4 linked regions of the Homo sapiens genome follow. The protein of the gene in region 2 purifies or fractionates together with the protein of the main gene of each other region. This does not show direct contact. Each region holds a gene or a part of one and is shown on either strand. Other genes may lie near its edges.

Evidence for each region.
Region 1: the proteins of TBC1D14 (region 2) and TRAPPC11 purify together in Homo sapiens (affinity purification with mass spectrometry; 2 studies listed by BioGRID and IntAct, with this or other methods). This does not show direct contact.
Region 3: the proteins of TBC1D14 (region 2) and TRAPPC8 purify together in Homo sapiens (affinity purification with mass spectrometry; 2 studies listed by BioGRID and IntAct, with this or other methods). This does not show direct contact.
Region 4: the proteins of TBC1D14 (region 2) and TRAPPC10 purify together in Homo sapiens (affinity purification with mass spectrometry; 2 studies listed by BioGRID and IntAct, with this or other methods). This does not show direct contact.

The regions. Positions count from the first base shown.
Region 1 is NC_000004.12:183,711,279-183,714,130, forward strand, and holds the end of TRAPPC11 (trafficking protein particle complex subunit 11), read left to right. Parts: intron 1-1,321; coding exon 1,322-1,366; 3' UTR 1,367-2,311; downstream 2,312-2,852. UniProt on the Homo sapiens protein: Involved in endoplasmic reticulum to Golgi apparatus trafficking at a very early stage.
Region 2 is NC_000004.12:7,024,826-7,031,825, forward strand, and holds part of TBC1D14 (TBC1 domain family member 14), read left to right. Parts: intron 1-178; coding exon 179-437; intron 438-5,501; coding exon 5,502-5,567; 3' UTR 5,568-7,000. UniProt on the Homo sapiens protein: Plays a role in the regulation of starvation-induced autophagosome formation.
Region 3 is NC_000018.10:31,828,683-31,835,169, reverse strand, and holds the end of TRAPPC8 (trafficking protein particle complex subunit 8), read left to right. Parts: exon of another isoform or gene 1-2,858; intron 2,859-2,996; coding exon 2,997-3,086; intron 3,087-4,180; coding exon 4,181-4,415; 3' UTR 4,416-5,973; downstream 5,974-6,487. UniProt on the Homo sapiens protein: Plays a role in endoplasmic reticulum to Golgi apparatus trafficking at a very early stage. Maintains together with TBC1D14 the cycling pool of ATG9 required for initiation of autophagy. Involved in collagen secretion.
Region 4 is NC_000021.9:44,085,308-44,092,362, reverse strand, and holds part of TRAPPC10 (trafficking protein particle complex subunit 10), read right to left. Parts: intron 5,562-7,055; coding exon 5,403-5,561; intron 4,665-5,402; coding exon 4,435-4,664; intron 2,531-4,434; coding exon 2,430-2,530; intron 441-2,429; coding exon 314-440; intron 1-313. UniProt on the Homo sapiens protein: Specific subunit of the TRAPP (transport protein particle) II complex, a highly conserved vesicle tethering complex that functions in late Golgi trafficking as a membrane tether.

The sequences.
Region 1 (2,852 bases), about 180 Mb from region 2:
TTAAATTAAATTTGCTTAGTTACACTGCCACATTTCAAGTGCTCAATCGCTAAATGTGACTAGCGACTGCCATACCAGACAGTGACGTCCTAGGCAAGGATGAATCCATACTTTTCTTCCTTTGAATAAAAGGCTTTGGTTTTCTAATTGTATGATGCACTCATTTTTTGCTCTTGCTTGTAAAAGCTACATTTGGCAGGGATTTCACTAGCTTGAGCCATGATTTTGTTTCTAAAATTGAGCAGCTCCCATCAGTACTAAAAAAACAGTCAAGAATCAAGGATCGGGAACCTATTTCACTCACTCCATTCCTGCCGTGAATGTCTGGAAGCTATACTTAGCTATGTTTCTGTATGTATGTACACACACACTGCTATATACATCTGAACAACCACAGCAGCAGCAAACTGAAAGCAGGAGTGCTGTCTTCACTGCCTCGGGAATGCCTCAGAATCTTTCTGCTTAAAGCATAGCAAATCACTTTTGATTGTGAACACTCTTCTGTTTCATTTCCTGATCATCTTTCTCCTGCTTTCCCCACAAAGGTCTGCTATTGTATATCTGTATAATAAAATAAAATTATTTGTAAGAATTGTATTCTTTTAGCTACTAGCTATCCCTCTGGGATGTTGTTAACCTGCCAGAAATTTTACAACTAAAAACAGTTACGATACCTTTTATTCATTCTTAGTCTTGACTTTTCTGACGTGATGTTTTAAATTCTTTCAATCAGTGATCTTAGAGATAGGGCAGTTTTTGTTTTTATCTGCCACTTTTATCCTTGCAGCATGCATTGGAGTTCACTGCAGACACTTTTTCTCAAACAGGAGATTGGGCAACCTTGAGTCCCCAAAAGGAACTTACCTGTCAGCTCAGGCTCTGGACCTGCTTAAAGCTTGAGACACAGGAGGGCCCTGAGCAAGAGAGAGAGAATAAAACTATCAGTTAAGTAGGAATGATAAACAAGGTTCCATTCCACATGTGGGAGATGGCCTGGCAGTAGCTGCTGGAACGCAGGGTTGAGAGAGAAGTACTGACAGAAGAGGATTCTTCGGGTGGAAGTGCAGAGTCAGCTGGTGATGGCTACAGGAGAGGGCAGCTCCCAGCCTGTGCCGTGGCCATCCCCAGGTGCAAGTGAAGAAAGAAAGAGGTGGGGTGAAAGGAGGAGAATCACCATATCACCATTTTTATTTTGATGCTTACACTCATTTATTCTGTTTTTGTAAAACAGTTTCAAGAATTTAAAAATCCTTCCAGTTAATAGAGCTTTTGTTATTATATTATAATTTTGTAAACCCACTTTGTTTTTCCCACTTTAAAGCCACAGGGTCGACTCATGGATGATACCTCTATTGCTGCTGCATGATGTTCAAGACCGGCCCTTGGCTGTTGTTACAGAGATGTTGGGCAGAGCTATGCAGGTGTTTCATTGTGAACTCTAGCTTTGATCATGGTAAAAAGTTAACCTTTTCTATTTTTTAATGGATGTTATACCAACTATTCAGAGGAACTCATACTTCAAAAATATTAGGAAAATCTGTCTTATAGTTTCTCTAATAAATATCTGAAATCTCAGTACGACATGAAAGAATGTCAGACCATTGTTATTGTTGAAAGTCATTTGATGAATGGTAAATTCTATGAAAAGTAAGTGATTTGCATGTATAATATCAGGAAAATTAAGCATCCCAAGTGTGACTGGACAAAGAGAGCAGATGCACCAGTGCCTGTGCCATAAAGTTCCGAATCCCCCATGTGTCTCTTTCAGAGCTGGCCAGACCGGAAATAAATCATTCTCATAAATTCAGTGTGTACTCAGAACACATACACAACAACATAGGGAGTTGTATGACTGATACGGAAAACTTCCAGAAAGTTTTAATCAAAGCAGTTTAATTAAGGTATCAAAAATATCTTTGCTTACTATCAAGAAGTGTCAAATAGGTTCAGCTTGCTGCCAAAATATGGATCATTTATGAAGCAGGTTCATATTTTAGAGGTGTTAATAAAATCCTCATCGGAAAAGATCCAAAGTGCAAGGATTTGATTATAAACATAATTTCCTAGACTGAAAGTTTTTGGAAAAGATGCAGGGTCTGAGTCAGGCCTTCTGGTTATATTGTGCAGTTTCAAAAGAACTATTTAAAACTCTTGAAAACTCATGTAAATAAAAATCATAGGGTGAAAATTGTATTTGTTAAAATACCTTAATAATTTAAAATGACCTGATTTCCTGGAAAATTTTATTATTCAAAAGGTGGAGGCATTGTAAAAAGGAAATAGTGATGTAAATAAACATGTTCTCTTTCAAGTATGCTTGTCTGTCTCTATCTTTTATTTTGAGCTTGTTTGATTTCAGCTTCATGGAACAGCTTTTACTAAGAACACTGTTGCATGAGATGCAATGGCAAGCACAGGATTGAAAATTGGGCTGTGTTCTAGAACTGGCTCTGGTAACATTATGTGAGAGTTGGACAGTGCTATCTTGGGAGGACATGAGCTCCCTGTTGTAACATGGCTTTTCAGGTAGAGGCCATGGAGCATGACTCTAGAGTCCAGCTGTCTAGGATCAAATCCCTCCTCTGCTGCTTTTGTCTGGGTGACGTTGTTCAAGTTCCTTACCCTCTGTGTATCTCAGCGTTCTTGTATATAAGATGTAAATAACACCCATCTTATAGGCTTGTTATGAAGGATGATATAGATTCATACATGAGAAGAGCTTGGAACAGTGCCAGACCCAAAGTTATGTATGAGGGTGCTCAGCCAGTGTCATCTATATTTTTATGGGAAGGCTGAAGAGGGTATTCACTTTTCTACTGGAGAGTTCCATGTTATCAGAATTTGTTGATACA
Region 2 (7,000 bases):
CTGTGTCCTGAGCGATGTTAGAATTACCCTTCAGTGTGAGTGCAGGCCTGGCCCTGGCCCCAGCTGTTGCCTGAAAGTGACTAGGGGAGTGTTTTTCATGGAATCAGACTGGAATTCACTGTTCTTTCTTTGTTAGGAGAGATTCAAAATCTGAAAAATTCCAACTTTTACCCCCTAGGATCTTTACCTTATATAGTAAATCTCTGCCCCTCGACCTGGCCTGTCGTATCTGGGACGTGTTCTGTCGCGATGGGGAAGAGTTCCTGTTCCGCACGGCCCTGGGCATCCTGAAGCTGTTCGAGGACATCCTGACCAAGATGGACTTCATTCACATGGCCCAGTTCCTGACCCGGCTGCCCGAGGACCTGCCCGCCGAGGAGCTGTTTGCCTCCATCGCCACGATCCAGATGCAGAGCCGAAACAAGAAGTGGGCTCAGGTCAGCGGGCTTTGTGTTCTTGGCTTCCCACAGCGTAGCCGGCAAGTGGCGCGACTCAGGAAGGCCCCTACGTAAAGTGCTGTCTGAGGACGTAGCCCCTTTGATGGAGTCCCTGGGCTGGAACTGAGGGGGGCCGGGTGGAGACGTGGCTGTGCCACAGGGCGTCTCGGCGGGTCGCCTCCTCTTTGGGTTTCTGTCAGCTGGATGGGGTGTGGATAATGAAAGCCTTCCCACCTCCTCTGCAGTGGCATTGGGAGGGTCAGCACTTGTATCATTATAGTGCTCTTTACATGTTAGAAAGTACTTTGTAAGCCACGTACCCCCCTTTTTAAAAAAAATAATGCCAGAGACAGAAAGCAAAGTGGACCCACTTACTGAGCCCCGTGGCCATGCCCTGTGGCAGGCTTTTGTGTGTGTCCTTGAGAAGGAAGTGGGATTACCCCCCTCTTACAACAAAGGGAGGCCCAGAGAGGAGGGCGCGGGTCCCTCCTGGGTCTTCCCATGCGCTGCTGTGCCCTCTCTGGGCTGAGTGCCCCAAACAGTGGCGCGGATAGTCCGTATCCCTTGGTTTCCCTCCAGGCATCCCTCCTAGGTCCTGTCCCCAGTGGGATTGACCTGCATTTCCTGTTCCGAGTCTTTGTCATACTAAAAAGGAAAAAAAAACCAGTTTGGGTTCTTGATCCTGCATACACTCTGCATTGGTTTGAAGTCCTTGTTGATTGACGTCTATGAAGACTTTTCCTTTTCTGTACGTGCTACACCATGCCTGGGGGATTTCTTTGTTTTGAGAGAGGGTCTCGCTCTGTCATCCAGGCTGGAGTGCAGCCCCCGCCTCCCAGGCTCAGGTGACCATCCCACCTCAGCCCCCCGAAATGTCTGTTCTTGATTTAACTTTTTTTTTTTTTAATGGAAGATTTAAAATATTTACAAAACTAGAACAGCATAAAATAATGCACCCCCACACGCCTGCTCTGCAGTGTCAGTGACTGTGGAAGCGCAGCGGCTGTTGGAGCTGCCTCCCACCTCTCCCCTTCCCACCATATTGAAGCGAGTCCCAGGCACCGTGTCACCTGTTGGTGTTAGCGATCTCTGACTCATATGGGCTCTTTTAACGTAACTGCAATACCGTTACCACTCAGCTACTAACTCCTTCCTATCATCAGATATCCAGTTTTCAAATTCAGATGTCATAAATGGCTTTATAGTTGGTTGGAATCAAGATCTAAATAAAGTCCATGCCTTGTGATTGGTTGAAAGCTCTGTTAAGCCTCTGTAATATCTATGCCACGCCACTTCTCACTTTTTAGCCCTCTCTTGCTTGCCTTTATTTGTCAAAGAAAACAGGTCATTTAGGCTGGGCACAGTGGCTCACACCTGTAATCCCAGCACTTTGGGAGGCCAAGGTTGGGGGATCACTAGAGCCTAGGAGTTTGAGACCAGCCTGGGCAACATAGTGAGACCCCGTCTCTACAAAAAATACAAAAATTAGCTGGGCATGGTGACGTATATCTGTAGTTCCAGCTGCTAGGGAGGCTGAGATGGGAGGACCATTTGAGCCTGGGAGGTCAAGGCTGCACTGGGCTGTGATTGCGGCACTGTGCTTCAGCCTAGGCAACAGAGGAAGACCCTGTCTTAAAAAAACAAACAAACAAACAAAAAAAACAGGTTGGCCAGGTGCAGTGGCTCACGCCTGTAATCTCAACACTTTGAGAGGCTGAGGCAGGTGGATCACGAGGTCAGGAGTTCAAGACAAGCCTGGCCAAGATGGTGAAAACCCATCTCTACTAAAAATACAAAAATTAGCCGGGCACGTTGGCAGGCTCCTGCAATCCCAGCTACTCGGGAGGCTGAGGTAGGAGAATTGCTAGAACCTGGGTGGCAGAGGTTGCAGTGAGCCAAGATCATGCCACTGCACTCCAGCCTGGGCAATAGAGTGAGACTCCATCTCAAAAAAACCCCAAAAAAGCAGGTCATTTGTCCTGTAACATTTCCCACTGGGGGAGAGTTTTATGGCATATACATATGTCACCCCCCCCACACACATCACACACCTATACGTACACAATCACCCCACACACACAATCACCTCCACGCACACACATTGCACATCCATTCACCCCCCATCTCACACACCCACACAATCACCCCCCACACACCTACACATACACAGTCACCCCACACATAGACACGCACAGATCACCCCCACGCACACTCATTGCACACCCACAGTCACACCCCTACACCTCACACCCAGTCACCCCACACACACATCACATACACAATCACCACACACCACAATCACCCGACACGCACATCACACACCCACCCACGCATACAATTACCCTACACAGTCACATCCACACACAATCACCCCACACACATCACACACCCCCACAATCACCCCACACAATCACACACCCACACAAAATCACCCCCCACACATCACACAACCACACACAATCACCCCCCACACATCACACACCCACATACACAATCACCCCACACACATCACACATCCATACACAATCACCCCCTACACATATCACACACCCTTAAATACACAGTCACCCCACACAGGCATACCCACACACACACAGATCACCCCCATGCACACACATTGCACACCCAGTCACCCACAATCACACACATACACAATCACCCCACACAGTTACCCACACGCACAGATCACCCCCCACACACACATTGCCCACCCCCCCACACATAGATCACCACTTACACATCACCCCACACACACCCACACATACATGCACACATCACACACCTACACATTGCATACCCACACACACACCTACAGATCACCCCCCACATACACCTATCACAGCCCCACACACACGTCACCCCACACATCACACCCACACGTACACATTACACACCCACACACCTCACATGCACATACACACCCACGTACAGGTGCAGGTCAGTCCCTGCGCATCCACATACTGCACACCCACATACACAGGAAAGGATTAAACCCAGATCAGCCATTTTGATCCTTGCATATTTTAGGGACTAGGTAAAAACTATTGGTTAAAACTGGGTCAGATTATTTGACCGTAGGACATTGTTATTAATGGGATGGTGATAGGAGTTAGTCTGATGATGGGGGTGGGGGGCTTGGGCATCAGTGACGTGCTGTCAGTTTTTTGTTTGTTTTTTTTTTGAGACGGAGTCTCCACCCTGTTGCCCAGGCTGGAGTGCAGTGGCGCAATCTTGGCTCACTGCAACCTCTGCCTCCCGGGTTCAAGCGATTCTCTTGCCTCAGCCTCCCGAGTAGCTGGGATTACAGGCGCCCGCCTCCATGCCCAGCTAATTTTTGTATTTTTAGTAGAGACGGGGTTTCACCACGTTGACCAGGCTGGTCTCAAATTCCTGACCTCGCGATCCACCTACCTCAGCCTCCCAAAGTGCTGGGATTATAGGCGTGAGCCACCACACCTGGTCCAGGCATCAGTAACTTTTATACAGTTCAGGTCTCATGGGACTTGTGGTCCATGCACATTTCTCTCAAATCCTGTGCTTAAGGTTAAGACACTGGTGAGCTTTCTTTTTCTTTTTCCTTCTTTTTTTTTTTGAGACAGAGTCTCACTCTCATTGCCGAGACTGGAGTGCAGTGGTGCGATCACAGCTCACTGCAGCCTGAACCTCCGGGGCTCAAGCAATTCTTCCACCTCAATCTCCCAAGTAGCTGGGACTGCAGGCATGTGCCATGATACCCAGCCAATATTTGTTTGTTTTTGTAGAGATTTGTTTGCTTTTTTGTTGCTGAGGTTGGTCTCAAACTCCTGGGCCCAAGTGATCTTCCTCCCTTGGCCTCCCAAAGTGCTGGGATTGCAGGCATGAGCCACCACGCCCAGCCATGAGCTTTTTCAAAATGACTAAATGTTTATGTTGAGCCAGCAACCCCATTTACTTCAAGATGCAGGGGGACTTTATCTGCCATTATTCCTTTTCTGCACCTTAATTGAAACCAAAATGCTTTTACTTTTAAATTTGTGACTCAAAGTGGCATGGTTCCTGGCCCCAGGCAGGTAGCACTGTGTTACCAAGATTCTCTTGGTTTCACCCTTGGACTTTGAGCACGTCACTTCCGTACATGTCTGTTGTTCAGGCCCCTCATGTTGGGGCATTAGCCTTCCAGAGTTTGTCGCGTGGGCTAAGCGGGTGCTGGGCGCGAAGCGCTGGCAGAGTTCTCTGCTTGGCGTGGAGCCTGTTAGTGTTGCTGCAATTGCTAAGCAGCCACAATGGCGTGGAATATCTTTTAAAAGAAGGGTGTTGGCCTGGCATGGTGGCTCAAGCACTTTGGGAGGCCAAGGCGGGCGTATCATGAGGTCAGGAGTTCGAGACCATTCTGGCCAATACGGTGAAACCCTGTCTGTACTAAAAATACAAAAATTAGCCAGGCGTGGTGGCACACCTCTGTATTCCCAGCTACTCAGGAGGCTGAGGCAGAAGAATCTCTTGAACCCGGGGGTCAGAGATTACAGTGAGCCGAGATGGCGCCACTCCACTCCAGCCTGGGTGACAGAGCGAGACTCCATCTCAAAAAGAAGAAAAAGAAGGATGTTGACCAAGAACTGTGAGAACAGAGGAGGGAGCAGGCTCTGGGTGAGCTCAGGAAGGCAGGCAAGAGGAACCAGTGCCTTGAGGCCTTCTCAGGTGGCAGGCTTCCTGGTGGAGGAGGAACAGGGTGGCAGGAGTGCAGCGGGATGGGCACAGGGCTTATTAGCATCCTAGCGTTCAGGCCTGGGCTTCCTGGGTGGCCACTGCAGGACCCCAGTGAGGCCCCCAGCTGTGCTTTGACGTGGATTCTGTGGCCGGCTGGAAGGAGTGCAGCTAGCTCACCAGGCCAGAGAGGGCACGGGCAGGTGTCCATGTTGGAAAGACCACGAAGGACGTAGGAGTGGAAGACCCTGGAGGGTTGGAGGCAGTGGAAGTGGGGAGCCGGGGGACCCTGTTAGGAGGCTACTGCTGTCTCTGCTTCGCTGCTGTCAGGATCTGTGTGCGTGGTCACTTAACCTCAGCTGTCTTCCCTGTGACTTCTAGGTACTGACTGCATTGCAGAAAGACAGCCGGGAAATGGAGAAGGGAAGTCCGTCCCTCCGACACTGAGGCTGCAGCGGGAATTCGCACTCGGCACCAATCAGAGCCCCATGCCGCGGCCCCTCTGTTGTTTCAGACTGACACCCGGGCAGCCGAGAAGAACAGACGCTCTTTAAGTTTGATTCCTAACACTGGAGTTGGCCTTAAACAAAACAAACACAAAAACTTTTAAAGAATTAAACCAAGGCTTAGCCTTAAGCAGCTCAGTGGAAGGATGAGCTGCTGCGGACCACAGCCAGCCACTGCATCTGCTGCACAGTTGAACGATGGGCAGTGGCTCACCCCCACTCCTTTATTTCAGCAAAAGCTAATTAAATTGTAATGTTTCTATGTCAACTACTGGGAAGTATGTTACAGTCTTAGCCAGGATGCATGAGAGATGTTATTTGGGAGACTTGAGATGCTTTGGCTGATATTTACATGTTTTCGATAAGAAAGGGATCGCTGATTGAGTTATTGAGATAGTTTTTCCAGAGCTGGAGGTCACGTTTCTAAAACTCACCTACGAAAGATAGCATTAAAGGAACAGGGGCTCTCTGAGGATGGCCACTGATGTGTGTTTGTGGATACCTGGGCATCGACCCAGCCTGCAGGTGAGCTCTGGGCCATGTTGCCTTGACACAGTCACAGTGTAGAGGCTGCAGGTGCACACGTGGGCTCCAGTGGGACTGCGCTCTGGGAGACTGCTCCCTGGCATCGGTCCTGCGGAGGTGGAAAGTTCGAGAGGAGGAGCTATTTGCGAGGAAGCCCTGTGGCAATAGAGATAGGCTTAAAAGCGGAGAGAACACAGAGTGGAATCAGCCCCCTGTAAGTAAAAGGGTAGAGAAAGAGATGTGTGGCTGGGCCCTCTCCCACCTGCCTGTTCAGTGGAGGCCAGGGCAGCAGCCCAGAACAGCACATGTGGGGGAGGTGGCCCCTTGTGCCAGCAGTGGCTCCTCTCTGCCTTTGAGCCCTGCACAGCTGGACCCATCCTAAGTGCCAGTGAGTCCCTCACACATTTGACTTTAGAACGTGTGCTTCATGACCCGTTGTACAGACGGAGGAGCGAGCAACACACGTCTAACAGCCTAGACAATCTCGTCAGATGCTCATACTGGACCATCAGCCTCCCCATTTTAGCTGACTTTCCCAGGGTCGTTGGCAAATTTTTTGTTCTGTCTTTTCCTTGACTAATTGTAGAACTTTGTGTGAGGACTTTGGTTATCCAAAATCACAGAAATGAACCGTTTTGCAGCTGCGCAGTCTAAAGGGCAGGCCAGTGTCTGGAAGCAGGGCCCACGTGGCGGTCCGCTGGCAGGCTGGTCCTGGGGAGCATTCTGCGGACCCGGTCACGGGCTTGGTTAGTCATGCGTACATGTGTGCCTTGGGGTGCTCTGCACTCCACGGCCCTTCTCAGCCACACTTCCCACCCCAGGGGGTGCCCCCAGGCTGATCTCATTTCT
Region 3 (6,487 bases), on a different chromosome or scaffold from region 2:
CCCCTTTCCCCCAAAGAATTCTCGCTGTACTGAGTTACTGTCACTGTGTTTGTTAGAATGGGAACAGAAAAAAGAATACAAACCTTAAGGTAGTTTATGATGAAAAAGTGGAGGCATCTTTACAGGAGAGGTAGTAGAAAGAAATCATTAAGAACTACATCAGCCACCCTGAGGTATGGAAGATGTTGGAAGAAATACAGCATCTATTGTTGAGAGGACAATACAGTTAAAGATAGATGTAGAAACACAAAGAGAAGAGATGGAGGATATAAGGAAGCATTCTTAATTTAATGGGGGTTTCAGAAAACAAGTAGAAATGTGAGGAAATGGGACAGTAGGAGGTTTGGTCATGGTAGTGGGACACAGAGCAGTAGAGGTATGAGAATAGAAGAAAGAATAGGTGACAGGAGATAACAAAGATAAAATCATACTATGTTTAGCTGCCATGAGCATAAATTGTTATATTAAATAATGTTTATGGAGCTTTTGAACATGTGCTAGTCACCATTCTCAGCACTTAACATGTTTTACCTAATCACAACAAACCCAAGAGGTAGAATCAATTATTATTCTTTGCAGTTTACAGTTGAGAAAACTGAGGTACAGGTAGCAGTCTGACTCTAGAGCCCAGCTTTTTCACTGGATGCAGTGGTGGGAGAATAGTTGTCAGAACTTTGATTTCTCAGCCCTGTTTGTGGTTCATTAGATTAGCATTTTAGAAAAACTAATGTGTAAAGCAGTTTTCAAAATGTGGTCCCAAGACTGGACCTGGTGGCACACACCTGTAATCCCAGCACTTTGGGAGGCCAAGGCGGGCGGATCTCCTGAGGTCAGGAGTTCAAGACCAGCCTAGTCAACATGGTGAAACCCCATCTCTACTAAAAAATAAAAAAAAATTAGCCGGGTGTGGTGGCGAGCGCTTGTAATCCCAGCTACTGGGGAGGCTGAGGCAGAATAGCTTGAACCTGGGAAGCTGAGGGTGCAGTGAGCCAAGATCGTGCCACTGCACTCCAGCCTGGGCAAAAAGAGCAAAACTCCATCTCAAAGAATAAAAAACAACAACAACAACAACAACAACAACCAAAATGTGATCCCAGACCAGGAGCATTAGTATTAGTATCATCTGGGAACTTAGAAATGTAATTTCTGTTTTTTGTTTTTTTTTTTTGAGACGGAGTCTTGCTCTGTCACCCAGGCTCGAGTGCAGTGGTGTGATCTCGGCTCACTGCAAGCTCCACCTCCTGGGTTCATGCCATTCTTCTGCCTCAGCCTCCCGAGTAACTGGGACTATAGGCACCTGCCACCACGCCCGGCTACTTTTTGTATTTTTAGTAAAGACGGGGTTTCACCATGTTAGCCAGGATGATCTTGATCTCCTGACCTTGTGATCCGCCCGCCTCGGTCTCCCAAAATGCTGGGATTACAAGCGCAAGCCACCGTGCCCAGCCTAGGAATGCAATGTTTGGGCCACACTCCAGACCTATGGAATCAGAATCTCTGAGAGTAGGCCCAGCAGGTTTTTTAAAACAAGCTTGCCAGGTATTTCTGGTGCATACTCAAGTGTGAGAAACATGGTTAAAGAATAGATTGCATTGTGGTGCTAATTAAGAGGCTCTTGCAGTAAAATGAGACATGAGACTTGAACTTGTAAGGAAAATGAGATACAGTGAAGTAACCAGGTTCCAGAGATGTGTGGGTGAGAGAATTGGCAGGAATTTGTGAAGAACATTGGGAGTGGAGGTTAGTGACTGTTAGGAGGAATCAGTATGATACTTACAGTTTGCTGGGGTAGATGGGGGTGCTCTTCACTGGAATGAAGATGATGAGTTTCACTTTGGACCAGGAGATATCCACATGTTCACATTTCTTCTTCTACTAGAAGCATTTGTATAAGGTACAAAGAATTTGACATTTGAGGATCAAATGGGAACAGAATAGCATAAGTTCCTGAATTTTTACTTTGGGCTACAAATTATGCAATTGGAACTTAATTTAATGAGATGCTTCAGACTGACTGGACACCTACCCAGTAGTCTTTGTTGCCCTTCTTGCCACATGAGAAGTTTGTGGGGGAAGTTAGGGCATAGCACCAGTACAACCTGGTATGTATTTTAAATCATCTTAGTTTTTGTTTAGGGAAACCTGTGACGTTTGCGGTATTGTTTAAAAAGTATTTCTCAGTAAGAAGATATAAAGTTTCTGAAAGTATAAAATATATTATCTGAGCAGAATTTAAAAGTTAATGTGTATGAACTTATACGGTTACTATTTTTTCTTCTTTACTATCTTTGTGTTTATAGAGTAAAAGGTAGATAATAGTATATAACCCTGCTTCATTTGTACATGTTATATTCATTTCTTGCATTCTTGATTTGAAATCTGTACCACTCTATTCGCATGTCCTCTTCTATCACTGCCTTTTTTCCTATGCTTTAGTAATTTATTAATTATGGTATCAGAAACTAGGCTACCTGAGCAAAATGTATCCACTCGAAAGAGATTTCCTCATAACTATATAGAAATCATTCTTATATTCTTCAAAACATGATGTTGTGCAAATTTGATAGAAAAACAAATGTCAGTCTAGGCCAAGTTCTCAAAATTAAGTAATTTTTAATAAGCACAAAGACAACAGTATTAGTTGTTGGCATTTTCATGGTTTACTTTTTCTTCATTGATCTAAGTTGAGATTTTGTTTTTCATTTTGTGAAATATCTAGAAACATTTTAGTTGTTTTTAGAAGATTAATAAATGAAAATAAAATAGTTCTGTGAATGTATATATTCTGATATTTAATATTGTCATTGTATTAATATATTTTTTATTTACAATATAATTTGTCTTGAGTGATTTTGGAACTTGAGCTTTTTCCTTCTTGAATCTGATTGTTTTTAAGGAGCTTATGCTCTGTTACATAGTCTTAAGTGTTATTTTCAGGAAAATTGCTTTTAAGAAGAAAAAAATATATAACTTTTTTGTTTATTTTTCTTCCATAGCCTTTGTTTAGTACCAGTCACTCTTTTACTTTCCAATTGTTCTAAGGCTGATGTAGATGTCATAGTTGATCTTCGGCATAAAACAACAAGGTAAAGATTTGTTTAGTGCAAGGTTATTTGATTTGGGAGCAATTTAATATTTTGAAATTATGCAAATAATTACCTAACATGGATAAGAAAGTTACTCAAGCTTGTCCTGGTTTTTTGTTTGGTAATATAGAAGGCTTACAGATGTGTTACAGAGGCTTTAAATATTAAAGATTTTTTTTTCTTGATTATAAAATAGTACTTAACAACAAAAAAAAATCCAGATCCACAGTCCCACATCAGATACTCCTAGAGCCAAATGCTTTTGGGAATTCAGAAATTTTTGAATTTTTGGAAAAATACTATAAAGCGTATACTTAATATTTTTGTATAACACCCCAAACAGGATCTGGGACAGTTCTCTGAAATCCAAACACACACCTATATATGTGATTTTGTGTATCATAAATTTATTAATACTTTATTGGGTACTGGGTTTTCCATTTTTCAATATTATAAACAGTTTCAATATTAAAAGCATTCATGTACAGACACTTATATATGGCTAACTAAGGAGTTAAAAGTTTAGGTTTGAAATCAAGTTCCAACATATACTAACTCTTAGGGCATTAAATGAAATAATCCACTTTTAGCATTGTGCCTAGAGAATAGAAACTATTAAATAATAAATGTTAGCTGTTATAGTAATGATGTTGCTATTATTAATAAACAGTTGGCTTCATAAAATAATTTTTAGAAATAGAATTGTTAGATGAAAGGGATGTTTGTTTTCTTCTTGAGATGGAGTCTTGCTCTCTCATGGGCTGGAGTGCAGTGGTGCAATCTCAGCTCACTGCAACCTCCGCCTCCCAGGTTCAAGTGACTCTCCTGCCTCAGCCTCCTGAGTAGCTGGGATTACAGGCGTGCACCACCATACCTGGCTAATTTTGTATTTTTAGTAGAGACGGGGCTTCATTATGTTGGTAGGCTGGTCTTGAACTCCTGATCTCAGGTGATCCACCTGCCTCAGCCTCCCAAAGTGCTGGGATTACAGGCGTGAGCCACCGCGCCCAGCTGAAAGGGATATGTTAATGTGACTTTGGGAAAAAAATTAAAAAGAAAAAAATCCTGCAACTTACATTTTCCTCCTCCCTTAGTCCAGAAGCACTGGAAATCCATGGATCATTCACATGGCTTGGACAAACACAGTATAAACTTCAACTTAAAAGCCAGGAGATTCACAGTCTGCAGCTGAAAGCATGCTTTGTTCATACAGGTGTTTATAACCTTGGAACTCCTAGGGTATTTGCCAAGTTATCGGACCAAGTTACAGTGTTTGAAACAAGTCAGCAGAATTCCATGCCTGCCCTGATCATCATCAGTAATGTGTGACAACTTGGAAATTTGTACTGAAATCCACAATAATCAGTTTTTGCTGGATGGGTTTTACAGCAGTATTTGATATACCTAACTTGTTATGGAGGTTGATTGATATCTGATCCCTGCAAAATACTTTGACTTGTCATTTTGTTGATGATGCAAAGCACGTTGGACTGAGAATACTTAACATTCTTTTTCTGTATTTCTTTAAACCCTGAGAATAATTTACATGCTCATAATACAGGATATCAGCATATTTGTGCACCTTATTAAGCCCCATCTTAAGAAAACACAAAGTCTAAGTCTGCTGTTACAACTTGTCAATGGTATACGAATATTAGGAGATGATTCTGAGAAAGGAAAGGCCTTGTTGGCAGTACTCCTGTTAAGCCATTAGTCTCTAAATTCCAGCTTTACTGTGAAGTTCTATAGAGTGTTAAATACAAATTTTCCTGTCTTGCTTCACACAGTTCCTTAAAATCAGTTTTGAACTTTGGTCATAGAGTCTTCATATTTCAGTATTTGGTGGTCCCTATGACTTATACATAACTTTGTAAAAAGAAAAAAAAATTTTTTCTGATGCTTTGAATATAGTTTTGAAAGGAGTTTTGACTTTTTTCCCCTCATTCATCTCAGTATAGAGTGCGCTATTTCACAATACGATTTTTGTCATTAAAATTACCATATTCTTTATTATATAACGTTAACTATTGAGTTGATCTGTTTAAAATATAAATCTCAAGTTAATTAAAAATAAGCTTTTCAAAAATGTATTATATTTATAACAAATATACTGTAAATAGAATAAAGACATGCTATTCACTGTATAGCGTATTAGTATCTGTTGATTAGAAAGTCTGGTTTCAAAATATTTTTTTATTCAGAGAATGGGCATTTGGACATAAGAAATTTCAATTCAGCCCTGCTGCAGATAGAGAAATGGGAGCAAGGTTGTTTCAATGAATATCTCTTGTCATTGGAGAAGGAGGGAAGACAGGGTGTAGGAGTGGGTGGCAGGGAGTACAAGAGCCAGGGTCAGTCAAGTCTGGAGCAGATGGGGTCCTTGTGCCATTGACAGCTACCATGGTTTGTTCCAGTCTCAATCTCGGCACTAATCGGAGCAGACTGCACCAAAGTGGGGAGAGATCAAAAGACCCCGTTTTCAGACTGAAGATTCCAAACCTGTACTTGGAACAACTCTTCTTGAGAGATGGGTGGCTAGTCTGTGTGCCTCTCTGCAACTGCTGCTTATGCTTCTGGATCTTAAGTGGGTCTCTGGCTTTTCAGCTCCTTCCACTCTGTGTCTTAGCAGGTGTGGGACAAGTTGGAGAGGAAGGTCACATTCTAAGGACACTCATTTCCTTCTTGAGAGTTTAGGGCCATGGGCTTATAAAAAGTCTGAGGAGGAAAGACAAGAATGAGGAGGCATAATCACAGTGGTATCTCATATTTAAACCACTCAGCTGAATATTAAATTGAACCGATTGTTAAACAGACACTAATAAAAAAATTAAACTATATAAACCTACAACTGAATATATTAAAAATAAAGGTAATAAAGCACTCAAAATTACTTCCTGAATATTACTCAGGATTATTTATGTCTATTTTATCTGTATCCTGGAAATACTACACAATGGTGTGTTTCTGCTCATCTCTTGCCAACCCTACATTCAGTGACTTGCTGGTAGCTTGAAATCAATGATAGTAGAATGTTTACCTCAGGAAAACCAGCAAATGCTACACACCAGGGCTTGATTTATTTATTTTTGTTGTCTACGCTAGACCTAAGAAAGTGATGGAGAAAATGTTAGTGATGCATATTAAAAGTGTTGCATATTTGTAGCTGTAACGAGTAGCACAAATAGTTTAGGAAAATATTCCTGCAGTATCTGAAAAGTTTTACCCAGTTCAACAAAGAAGTTGCCCGTATCACTGATGAACTAGTGAAGATCCAACATGTGTTTTCTCACTTCCTCTTCCTCGTTAATGTAAACAGAAATATCAACCAGCATTCATACTAAAATTATTCTCGCTTATCAATTGCAACATAGGTTGGTTTTCTATACAAGAGCTCAGCAAAA
Region 4 (7,055 bases), on a different chromosome or scaffold from region 2:
GAGTGGAGCAGTGCCCATGCAATCAACAGTGCGTTCAAACAGAAGCTTGGATCTGCACACGTCTACGCATAGAGTGGGACCAGTTTCAGATTTAATTCTTCTAAAAAGAAGAATTCATCCATCCAGCCACCCGCTTACTCAGGAGCAAGCCTCGATCCAGCCTCAGGGCAGCCGGAGGAGCTGCACAGGAGCCTTTACTCATCAGCAGTGCAGCTGTTCTATCTAAAGGCTCAGTCGCAACACATACTACATCATTTCCGTACACTCTGGTTCTCTGTTGAGAAGTTTATGCTCAGGTCTACACAATGTTTACCTGCTGGGACTGCGTGTTCAGTGGTACTAGTTGCAGGTCGGTACTATCACCGGTATCTACAAGATAACTATCTGACAGCTGAAAGTCAAGTTCTGACAAATTCTGGACACAAACTTGAACATATTTCCTAAAGTGGAAAAACAAAAAGTATTATTTTGATATGTAAGAACTTTATTAAATATATCTTAGCTTTGTTAAGGAGACCCTCTCTGCCTGGGGAATCAAAAAAGCAACAAAGCAAAGTAAGCTAAGTTGTTGCATAAGTTTCCCTTCAGATTTCACACCGAAAAGTGCCAGAAAATAAACCTTTTTGGCCGGGCACGGTGGCTCACGCCTGTAATCCCAGCACTTTGGGAGGCCGAGGTGGGCAGATTATGAGGTCAGGAGATTGAGACCATCCTGGCCAACATGGTGAAACCCCATCTCTACTAAAAATATAAAAATTAGCCAGACGTGGTGGCACGTGTCTGTAATCCCAGCTGCTCGGGAGGCTGAGGCACGAGCATTGCTTGAACCTGGGAGGTGGAGGTTGCAGTGAGCTGAGATCACGCCACTGCACTCCAGCCTGGTGACAGGGCGAGACTCCATCTCAAAAAAATAACAAATAAAAATAAATAAAAAAAGTTTTTAAAGAGGCAAGTTCTGTGAGGCAATGGAAGAAAGAATATAGTTTCTGACCAGCCTTATTAAGTGATCATGGCTGGTCACCCTCACTGGCCTTTGGGGAGCCACGGGGAGACAGCAGCAGCCCTCCTCATTACAGGTGAAGACTCTCCATTGAGAGATGATAGGCGGGGCTTATATCCATTTCCATTACATGCAAAACTTTGAAAATATTAATAATAGTTACTATTTTTTGAGACAGAGTCTTGCTCTTGTCGCCCAGGCTGGGGTGCAATGGCACGATCTCAGCTCACTGCAACCTCTGCCTCCCAGGTTCAAGTGATTCTCCTGCCTCAGCCTCCCGAGTAGCTGGGATTACAGGCGCCCGCCACCATGCCCGGCTAATTTTTGTATTTTTAGTAGAGACGGGGTTTCACTATGTTGGTCAGGCTGGTCTTGAACTCCCGACCTCGTGATCCGCCTGCCTCGGCCTCCCAAAGTGCTGGGATTACAGGCATGAGCCACCACGCCCGGCTGAAAAATAATTTTTTAATAAGGTTCTTTTAGAGATTATTGATGTTTTTAACTATTAATATCTACAGTTCCCTTTGCTGTGATTTGAAGGGGAAAAAAGCTGCTAGTATAATGTTCCATTCTAAACATGGGTCTGACGTTTTTGTTTCCAAATTATCCACACATCATCAATGGATAAAAAGTTGTGGTGAGAGGCCAGGCTAGCATCCCGAGCCCATTGATCAACGCTAGCACCGTCACTAAGGTAGGACACCTGGACACCGTGGGCCTCCCGGTGCAGTCAACAGGAAGCACACAGCCCCGCCTGCCTCAAAGCAGAACTGGAGTCTACTCAAGCCTTTAGGGCAGCTGTTTTCCACTGGGGCACGTCCGCCCCACCCAGAGGACACTGGGCAGTGTCTACAGACATCTGTGGCTGCCACACCTGCAGGTGGGGAGTGCTACTGGCATCTCATGGGAGAGCCTGGGGTGCTGCTCAACACCCTACAGCACACAGGAAAGCCCCTACAACAGAGTTATCTAGCCCAAAATGTCACTAATGCTGAGCTTAAAAGCTCCTGTTCTAGAGGTTGCAGGCAATTGACAAGAAATACAGGGACAGGAGAACTAGTTAACAAATCCAGCCAGATCCAGAAAGGCGGGCGTCCAGAGGAAACCTGGCCTGCAAGTGAACAAGTCGATGGCTTGAAAACAGGGAAGAAAGGATGAACAGAGATCTAGTGGTCTGATGGAGATTTTGGACCCCAAGTCACACAAAGCAACCATAAAAGGTCATTTTCAGACAGTTGGGAAAACCTGAATATGAACTGGATGTCACAGGACACCAGGGAATTGTGGATTTTAAGACACAAACAATGGCCTTGTGGTCACATAAGAAGACATCCTTGGTCACCACGAAGGCCAGTTTTGAACATTAGGAACCTCCACTTAGAAGAGTCTGGGGAAAGAAGCCAGGGCCCGCACGCTACGCCTCCGTTACCGTGTTCCTGAGGACAGGAGGCTGTGTGTGGTCCTGAAGGGTACGCTGAAGGTCAGTGCGATGACTGTGGAGTAGATGGACCACGGGCAGTCAATCGACACCTGAGGAGGAAGCACAAAGACACTCTCAGACCACTCGCCGACGGACAGCACAGCCACCACCACTGCTGCCCAGACTCACCTGCAGTGCCCGCCCACGCCCTAGACATTTTATTATGGCTTCAACCACTCATTATCCAGGAAGCAAAGCCTTACCCAACACATACACAAACCAACGAGAAACAGGAAGCTATGCATACAGACAAGAGAAACGAACGCAGAACTGGCAAGACATGCACACATCACCAGAGTCACCTCAACGGCGGAAGAGCACAGCCGTCCTCTAAGCAGCAGACCCACCTGCTGCTCCCATACACGCAGGGCCGCGGAGCCATGCATGTTGCAATGTGCACAGGGTTTTGACAAAGTGCTTTCAGTCATGTATTTCCAGATGACATTAGCCAATCAGTAACTACTCCATAGTTAATGAATTATCTAAGCATTTAATCCATGTGAGGCTGAATATGTAACTGAAAACCAAATCAGTTTAGGGGCACAGTGAGGACAAAGCTATTACATCCCTTAAGGGCAGGAAGGAAGCAAGTCTCAAGCCTTATTCCCCACAGGGAAGAGGTGAATACCCCAGCACACAGCGTGCGTGCCGCCAGTGCCAGGGAAGAGAGGATAACACGGCACATAGCACAGGTGCCACCAGCGCCAGGGAAGAGAGGATAACACAGCACACAGCACAGGTGCCACCAGCGCCAGGGAAGAGAGGATAACACGGCACATAGCACAGGTGCCACCAGCGCCAGGGAAGAGAGGATAACACGGCACATAGCACAGGTGCCACCAGCGCCAGGGAAGAGCGGGGTAACACGGCACACAGCACAGGTGCCGCCAGTGCCAGGGAAAAGAGGATAACACGGCACACAGCACAGGTGCCGCCAGCGCCAGAGAAGAGTGGGATAACACGGCACACAGCACAGGTGCCGCCAGCGCCAGGGAAGAGAGGATAACACGGCACATAGCACAGGTGCCGCCAGTGTCAGGGAAGAGTGGGATAACATGGCACACAGCACAGGTGCCGCCAGCGCCAGGGAAGAGTGGGATAACACGGCACACAGCACAGGTGCCACCAGCGCCAGGGAAGAGCGGGATAACACGGCACATAGCACAGGTGCCACCAGTGCTGCGCGCTCCTGCTGAGCTAAGCGCCACCTTCGTGAATGGTGAACGTCTGTGTGAGTTAAGGGAAAGACACTTCCTCAGGTTCTTCAAAAGCTGAACATTACAACATTCGTCTTCAGGCGTGGACTTGTCTGGTGACTCCGTGCTTTGGAAAGACGGCATGCCTTGCCCTTTGCCCCCGCTGCTCTTGGGCGTATACTGCGGCCCCTGGGCTGTTTCAGGGCCCTCAGGATTGATTTCTGGGCTACGAGACTTGGGCACACCCTGAGTAACATGATGCAGCGACACATTCCATGAGCTGATATCCTGTGGCTCTGGGACCGAAATCACATCTTTCTCAAGTAACTGTCAGTAAGTACCAGCACCAAAGCCTAAAATGAGACAGCTCCTCCGTGGCTGAGCTTATGAGTTTCAGTGGACAGACACCGAGGCACACACGACACAGACCTCCTCTGGCCTCGTCACCGGTCTAATGGACATGACCCAAGTTTTACGCCCCTCATGCCTAAGCCGGCCCTAACCTCTTACAGCAAACTCCCTGGCCCCTGGAACTGAGAGGGAAAGGTAGAGCTGGCTTGTCTCTGCCCTTGCAAAAAATGCACCCCTTATCTAAGAAAGGGTGATTCACAGACAGACAGAACTGCTAAACACATGCCCAGGGCATCGGGAATCAGAAGGAGCCAGGCTAACAGCAGGCATCGCTACATCGCCTTTCCCAGCAGGCAGGCGGGCGGCGGACGCCCCACAAGCTAAGCTCCTCCACTGTCCCTACTCACTTTGTGGTCTGTGGTAACCATGCAGCGGCCAGTTCTCTGTTTGTCCTTATGCTTCCTGTGGGGCTCTGCCATCCCCAGCATGTCACTCTCCCCTCCGAGTGCTGGGGCTGAAGGTAAAGAGAGAACTTCCAGTTCAAATTCGATCACGTGGTACGCAGGCGCAACAGGCAGACTGATGCTCGTGACCTTGTCGGAGGACTGAATCCGGAGCGCGGCCTCAGAAGACTGTTCTACGAAGGACAGAAAAAGTCACTTCAAAGCTGTTCCCTCGGTTTCACTTGTCCTTTTCCTTACAGCAGGTGATGGCCCAGCAGTGAGGCCACTGCTCAACCTCTCCCGCTCCTGCGCACCTGGCAGGCAAACCCAAGAACAAGGCCCCTAGGACAGAGCAGCCCTGTGTGAAAGCCGGCAGGCAGGCGCCCAGACCCATCATTGATCTCAATCTGAAGAGAGGAAAAGGGCATTTCCCACGGGGCCCACCCAAGTCCTGTGTAGGTCCCTGCATGACTTTCTCCCGTTCCAGCTCATCCGCAGATCCACCCCCACCCCAGGGGAGCAGGGTCCTCCCCTTCCCCTTCCTCGTGGCTGGGAGGATGGGAGTGCTCAGGGCTCTCAACAGCACCTGCAAGGGCTGCTCTGCTTTTGCTTCTCGGGAGCAGGGCCAGCCCAAGGGGGACAGGGTCTGGCAGGCATCACCATGGAACGTGACCCCAGCCGTGACCCCCATCTCCTAATCCTCAGCCAGACAAGCACTGCTCGGCCACTCAGCGTGTGAACCACTCTCAGTTTATCACCTCAGATGGGACCCCAGCACAGGCATCAGGCCGCAGGGCTCCTATGGAACACGGACTCCAGACACTGTTGAGGGGCGCTCAGCAGGATGGCAGCAAGGCCAGGCTCACCCTCACACCCACACAGTGCAGGGCAAGGTGGGCATCCTCCTTGGGCCTGGGTGGGCGGCACCTCACCTCTCGTGTTGGAGTAGACCACAGCCCTGCTCTCCGCCTGGCACAGGATGAGCATGGCTTCGGCATTGCTAAGCTGCAGGCTGTCTCCATTCTTTATCGTATAATGGCCGGTAGTGACAGTGAACTTGACTCTCTGAGGAATGCCTGCCAGAAGGCTATCTAAAGGAAAAGAGATCGTGGCTCAGCACCGCTGCCAACCGGAAGACAGCATCTCAGGGCCCGCAATGGGGTGAAAGGGGCTCTATTTCTTTTACTATGAAAGATTTGCTCCTTTGGGATCTCCATGAATTCCTTCTACTTCCATTCCCTTCTGCCCTAACTTTTCATCTCAATGATGTGGACTACAGGGTTGAAGGAGAACCTTGCTGGGGAAAAAAGAATCCTGTGAGTCAAGGAGTCTTATACCCATCTTGGTTCAGCAAGTCAGGGATTATGATCATGACTACGTCTCTGAGGGTCACAAAATTTGCCTGCCCATTAGTAGTAGAAGAGAATCACATAATGAGGCTTAAGAAGAGACTGTAAAGAAAACTTGACTGTGCTGGTGCTGCTCAAATATTCAAAACCTTCTCTGGATTTTTCAGCTTCAGGCCACGGGCTTTTGGGTTAAGAACAGTCAGCAGTCAGGTGGCTCCCCCTCACTCCAAGACAGCAATGAGAGGCAGGAGTGAGCTGAGGCCTCTGAGAATCCTGCTGCAGGGAAGACAGAAGGCAGGCAAGATACCAGGACCGGGGGGAGAGTGGACAGAGACAGGGGACACTAGGCAGGAAGCAGGAGCCAGGCCATGAGCCTGGCACTGCAGCCGCTGGGCCATGGGGAGGGCAGGGCCTGCTGGCTGGTGCTTCGGCTCCCCTGCGGGAATCGAGTTCAGCTTCTCTACACAATGTTCCAATGGAAGAATCACTGGAGAGACTGACTGCTGTGTCCCACATCTGACAGCCTTTGCTGGTGGCCACACAAGAGGCACAAATGCAGAAAAATAGGGGGAATGGGGGAATAACAGAAAAATGCCCTTTGTGATTTTTTTCCACGTAGAAGAAACAGGCAAATAAATAAATCGTTGCTAGCCCGAACAAAGGAGACATTCACTCACTCTTGTTCAGCTGCCACATGTTCTTCAATCATTTGTTTATAGCAACTCCTTCCAATTTTAGAACTTATCAGAAAGGACAATAGCTTTGAATTTCTCAAATGCCATGCCAGACGGACAAGTTTAATCAACCCTTTCAAAGGAAAACTTTTTTTTTTTTTAAGAGATGGAGTTTTGTTCTGTCACCCACGCTGGAGAACAGTGGCGCAATCACAGCTCCCTGAGGCCTCAAACTCCTGGGCTCAGGAGGCTGAGGCAGGAGCCTCAGCTGGGGCTCCAGCCTGTAGCTAGGACTAGAGGCCGTGGCGCACGACTACACCCAGCTAATTTACTTCATTTTTTTATTTTGCAGAGATGGGGTTTTGTCATCCTGCCCCGACTGGCTTACCCATGCTGGTCTCAAAGCCTTGGCCTCCCAAAGTGCTGGGATCTGAGTATAGATCCTAACTAAATCTAGTGTTTAGCATTTGAAACGTACTTCTAAGCAGGAAATTATATACATATTTATGAAACCCTGTGGTAGACATTAGCTGCTTCTTGGCCTAATGTGACACTGTAAAAT